Regions from separate parts of the Homo sapiens genome. Here region 1 is linked to region 2. The links come from fine-mapping of genetic effects on gene expression. A gene starts in region 2. The other region holds a variant in brackets. All regions are shown on one strand. Distances are between the middles of the regions. Region 1 overlaps C3orf22 (chromosome 3 open reading frame 22). Region 2 holds the start of CHST13 (carbohydrate sulfotransferase 13).

Evidence for each region. PIP is the estimated chance that this variant, and not a neighbour inherited with it, causes the effect.
Region 1: its variant is fine-mapped to the expression of CHST13 in whole blood (TOPMed, PIP above 0.99).

The regions. Positions count from the first base shown.
Region 1 is chr3:126,550,575-126,553,476 of GRCh38, reverse strand. C3orf22 (chromosome 3 open reading frame 22) reads left to right here. Exons shown (of 4, transcript NM_152533.3): 2 at 47-175; 3 at 1,355-1,480. The coding sequence starts at 87. Among named protein-coding and RNA genes, the nearest start is that of C3orf22, 6.9 kb to the left of the region's middle. RefSeq lists an enhancer at 2,641-2,902. The variant C/G (reference allele first, on the strand shown) is at 1,397.
Region 2 is chr3:126,522,362-126,525,263 of GRCh38, reverse strand. CHST13 (carbohydrate sulfotransferase 13) reads right to left here and starts at 1,109. Exons shown (of 3, transcript NM_152889.3): 1 at 835-1,109. The coding sequence starts at 931. RefSeq lists enhancers at 1-222, 223-723, 784-1,284, 1,285-1,785.

The sequences.
Region 1 (2,902 bases), 28 kb before region 2:
CCCCCCACCACCCCTGCCCCCTCTGACGCCTCCTCTTGTCTTCCAGCCATGGCTGAGAGGTGTGCCTCAGCTTAACCCACTCAGTGATGGACTCCAGTGCCTGCAAGAAGTCTCACCAGAGTAAGAAGTGGAGGATCCAGGCCCAGGAGAATTTTGCCAAGAAGTTTCCGTACAGGTGCGGGAGGCTGACACCTCTGGAGACAAGCCCTGCCTCCCCCAGGTCACCCCAGCATCCTGGGAACTCAAATGCATTCTGTGGGGCTGCAGCTGGGAGGGGGTTTTGTCCACAGGGAGACCCTTAGCAGCCCTTGCCCAGCTGACAGTCTGGGGTCCGCCTTCGTTACCCCCATCACAGCCTAAGCCGAGGGGCCTCTGGGTGGGCTCAGGCCTCCCTGGGTCATCCCAGAGCCCAGGCCAGCTGCTTCCCCAAGTCACGCGAGGAGCATGGCCACAGACGACTGCCCCTCCTGAGCTGTGTTGGAATTGGTGTGCTGGGCACCCATTGTTTGTGAGCTCCTGGGACTCGCAACTAGCCAGGATAACGGGCAGCCCGAGGGGGCCTGGGCCAAGTCTCCACAGGGCACTTCACATAAGGACAGAGCCACGGGCCAAAGAGGCAAAACAAATGCAAGGGAAATCTTGCCAGCAATGCCTGGGGCGCAGGGCAGCTGGCCTCCCACCCGCAGGACAGCAGGCAGCACCTGGCACTGGGGCTCAGCTTGGCACCGTGCAACCTCAAGCTTCCCACTCCATGCTCACCCCCCACCCCAGAAGCAAGTGTTGTGCGCCCAGCAGTGGCCCTGGATGCTTGGCAGGGCTACCCACAGGGACCACGGGGGACCACCAGGGCAGCCACGCTCGAGGGAGGTGGGGACGATGAGCTCCATGCTGTGTCCCTGTGCCGGGCCAGCTGAGCACCTGTTCTTGTCCTTGCCCCAGGAAACTGTAGCCATAACCTTGCACCCCATTCTGTCCCCCACCGCAGACACCATCACATGAGGCCCAGGTGGCAGGTACACACCACACAGAGTGGCCTCAGGTTGAAACCAGGGGAGGCCAGCACCCAGGGGCTCAAGTGCTCTGCACCGTTTGGCTGCTGTGGCCATGACAAGGCTCTGGAGCAGGCTGCAGCTTAGTTCCCACCTCCTGGCTGTGGAACCTCTGTGCCTCAGTTTCCTTGTCTGTAAAGTGTGGGTAACACCTGCCTCACAGCATGCTTGTCAGCTGACATATGGGCTAATATTTGTGAAGCACTTAGAACAGTGCCTAGCAGATGGAAAGTTCCAGATGAGTGAGAGTTACTTCAGGAGGCTGGTGGATGGTGGCCATGTTGACATTCCAAGTGCTGTTGCAGGTTGTCGTGGCTGACAGAGCCCGACCCTGAGCCCCTGCAGCC[C/G]TGGGAGGTCACAAACGACTCGAACACGGTGCAGCTGCCCCTGCAGAAGAGGTTGGTGCCAACGAGGTCCATCCCAGTCCGAGGGTAAGTCCCTGCCCTGATGCCACCACCCCCACTGGCTGTGTGCATGCTGCCTGGCTTTCTGTCCCCCAGTTTTGCATGCAGACGTTCATGTTATCCTCCCAGCACGCGCCACTTTAAAGCTGAGGAAACTGAGGCAGAGAAGGGGGATGCTAAAGCCTGATAATTGTTCCCACAGCCAGGCAGCATCCAGGCAAGGGCACACAGAACCTTCCCTGGGCAGGGCCCAGGCCACCGGGGTTAGGCCTAGTTGGAGGAGTGGTGGAGAAACTGGCCTCAGTGCAGCAGGAGTTTAGCCAAGTCCTCCACATGGGAGAGCAGCAAGGGAAGGAGCCAGGAGCTTCTGCACTCACTGTGGCTGCACTGGGCCGGCTAATGCTGTACTCCAAGGGTGGAGGCCCTGGCAGGGACCTCTGCACTGGGTGGCCCTCAGCTGACCACAGCACAAACTCTCATGCCCCCTTGTCACCCCATGCATGGGGCGCTCAAAGAAACCCTGCACACCTTTGGAAAGATCCAGCCACGGAAAAGCAGACCCTCAGGCACACCTACTTCCTCCTAAACAGATGTGGAGAAAGAAACAGAGCTTCTGACCTGGTGTCTCCTCAGTCATGCACGGCACGGGGAACAGCTGTGTGGCACCGAAGGGCTTCCTCCACCAGCGGTGCAGGACCCCTAGCCTCCTGAATGCCCCGGCCCCACTGATGCCCTGGCCCCCCGCCCACTCCAGTTAATGTCAGGGGCAGGGGGGGGTCTGTGTTGACTTTTCCATGCCCATTGTTTGATATAGTGCCTGTCAACTCTGGCCAGCCATGAGGATGCACACGCGTTCCCCTGAACACACACCTGGAGAGATAGTAGTGCCACGCACACACACACACACACAAAGAACAGACTTACATGCACATCCAGCACACAAACGGCCCTGGCCTTTGCCAGGCCTCACTCCCCGTAGTTCGGCTACAGGAGCATCAGATCCCCAGGCTTTTGCCCCACATCGCCGAGCTGAAGCAATGGGGCTTAGCGGCCAGGGCTGGGCTCTGAGAGCTCAGATGTTCCTGGTCTCAGATTCTACCCATGCAAAATGGACTGGCTTAGAGTCAGGGGCAGCTGTGGGGTCAGAGCAGAGGCCTGGGGCTGAACCCCTGCTGCTGGGAACATGTCAGGGAGCTGAAGGGGGCAGTGGGCTGAGCCAAGGCTGGGGAGAGATAATTGACCAGGGACCAAGCGGCTCCCAGGGCCCAGCCACAGCAGGGAGTTGGTCCCATGCCAGGGCTGGGGGAGTGGGCATTGGTGGGTTTCCACATCTCTACGGCCGGGCCCATGAGCACAGGAGGTAGGGAGGGGGCTGTGGGTGTCAGCCTCAGTCAAATGGCAGCAAAACAATGGGGAGCAGGCAGAAGGGAGCTTTCCCACGCCATCCTG
Region 2 (2,902 bases):
CCCACACTGGGGGTGGGGAGGCGGACTGAGTCGTCCCACCCAGCACGCATACCACATACAAGGAAAGGCAAACAGCCCTGAGGTCAGGAGACCCGGGCGCTGGCTGGGCCCCTCCAGTCCCAAGTAGATTGTATAGCCAGCACGTTGCCACCACACCTGTCTCCCCACTCTCTGGCCCGCTTCAGATTGTGTGAAATGGGTTGATGGGAGGCTTCACATGAGCTGAGGAGAGACTCAGAGCAAAGACTCAGCACCGGTGGAGCCCAGGGCACTCAGCTCTGCGGAGTCATGACTAACTGCCTCAGTTTCCCCAGCCAGACCACGAGTGGGTGCACAGGAGTCCCAAGCCCTACCCAGTGTGGATTTCAGGGTGGAGCAGGGAGTGGCACCCACTGCACAGTAGGACAACCAAGGGACCGGACCGAGTGGCCCAAGCTTCCCCTCCTATGCGCATGCGCCCAGCAGCGCTCATGTCCAGGGGCCGTGGGGTGCGCAGGGGAAGGGGGTGAAGGTAAGGGAGATGGCCTTCCCGGATTGGCCAATTGTCCTCTACCCCCCACAACTGACCCCGGTCTCCAGGCACCGGCTGTGGGACTCAAAACAGTCACCGCTCTGGGAGTGGGGAGGTAACTCCGGAGGAGGAGCAAGAGCCTTTGCTCGCGGGGGCGTCTAGAGCCTTTCTGTGCCTCACCAGCGCCCCTGCCCGCCACCCCTAGCCCCAGCCAGGAAGGAGACAACAGGTGTCCCCCGCGCTGTCGAGGGGTCAGGCCGCGGTGGAAAGCGCGAGGAGCCAGGTTTGGTTGGGGGTGCGCGGCTCGGCCGGCGGGCACTCACCCGGGCGCAGGGAGCGGGGCGCGGCGCATAGGAGCAGGAGCGCGGCGCCCAGACAGGCGGCCGCCAGCACGCGCCGCCGGCAGCAGCGCCTCCCCATGCTGTGCCGGGCGCGCGGCGGAGGACAGTCCGCTGGATACGGCTGGGGGCGGAGTTGCACTGGCCCAGGACCCGGCCCCGGCAGCGCAGCGCCTACCAAGACGCGCGGCGCGGCGCAGGGCAGGGGAGCACGGCAGCTGGACCCCAGCCCCACCAGCCCCTGCGAGTCGCTGGGGACTGAGGAGGCGGGACACGGTGGGGCCGCAAGCCCGCTCCTCTTTTCGTGCCCCCACCCTCACCCAATGGAATGGGGCCGAAGTCCAGGGCGCTAGGGCGGAGACTGATTGGGGAAGCCCCTCGCCTCTGGGCCCCGCCCCTAGGGTTTGCCCAGGGGTGCCATTATCCACCCAAGGCCAAGAGGCATTGTCGCGGTGGCGTGCCCCACCCCGGGCGGTGTCCCCTTGCCTTTTTGCTGCCTTAGATGCCAGGGGCCCAAGGGCTGATCTGGGATGAACCAAGGAGCCTAGTAGAGCGTTGCCCTGTCCATGGCTCTCCGGGACCCCCGCCCTCAGTAAGAGGCCTAAGAGTGTCCCTCCCTCCCCGACCCAAGGCTACCCTGCAGCCTTGCTTTCCTCCAGGGTCTCCAGGTCCTGCCTGAATCTAGCTCATGCAGGTGGCACTAGCCTTTGCACAGAGAGGTAGGGTCTCAGCTTACATCCCCCGGGGAATGGAGCTTGTGCCTCATCGTGTCACCCACAACTTCTCTGGGCACCACGTGAGCTCTGAGGACTTGCCAGGGACTGTGTGTGTGTGTGTGTGTGTGTGTGTGTGTGTGTGTGTTGGGGGGTGGAGGGGGCGAGGTGAGAGTAAAGTCCAGCCTTTGAAAGACACACACATCCAGCTAGCCCTGTGGGCAGGAGCCCACGTCTAACCGCAGGGTCTTGCTGCCCAGAAGTCAGGCTAGCAGGGAACGGGAGGGTGCAGCTGGCACTGGGTGCGCGGATGAGTGCGTTGGAAACAACATTTAGCAGTGTGAGTGCATGGGATAGGGTACTACATTACACTGTAGGTTTTTTTTGGAGTTTTTTGTATAAATGTAAGGGACACAAGTGCAGGTTTGTTACATGGAGATATGCAGTGGTGAGGTCTGGGCTTTCCGTGTAACCATCACCTAAATAATGTCCATTGTACCCATTAAGTAATTCCTCATCCCTCCCACCTCGCTCACTCTCCTACCCTTCCAAGTCTCCAGTGTCTATTATTCCACACTCGAAGCTCCAGTTGTTAAACTGTTCTTGAAAAATGTGGTGACTCCAAACCCACCTGGTGCCGCTTACTGCTGTGGGAGATTAGGAAATTAACTGCACCTCTCTGTTTCCCATTTTCCTGTACGGGGGGATAATCCTAAACCTCAGTGCTGTGAAGATTAAATGAGATACAGGAAATGTTTGCAACAGTGTCTGGCACTCAGTGAGTGCCAGGTAAGTATTTGATATTAGTAATTAATTTGTTTATGGTTACTGCCTGTTTCTGGCAAGTGGCTGGTTTCTGTTAAAGTGGTGAAATAAAAATTTCTCCCTACTATATTTATTTAAGTTGTGGAAGATCTATTTAAGGAAGAATATTAAGCAAATAATAGTTCTGCTGGTTTTGAGATACAGCTTTAAATGGTGATGATGTTCTCAAAGGACAGGGGTGGGAGTCCAGACTCACAGTAAGCTAGAAGCTTCTTATCATGACTTTTCTGGCCTTGGGGAACCTCTAGCCCACCCCCAGACTGGCCCAGGACCCAGGGATTCCAGGTCATCTGCATTCCCTGCCGGACCTAACTCGCATCCAAAGGTGCCTTCCAAATTTCCCCAGACCGGCATTCCCTGGCCTCACTGCCAGCCTGGAATCCTCAGCGCGCTTTGCCCTTATATGCTGCCACCTGGTGGCCAAAGTTGGGAATAACATCTCAGCCCTTCATCCGGAGATGTCCCTGGAAATGGGGTCCCTGGAGAAAGGAAGAGATGGTCTTGGGTCTTGGGGT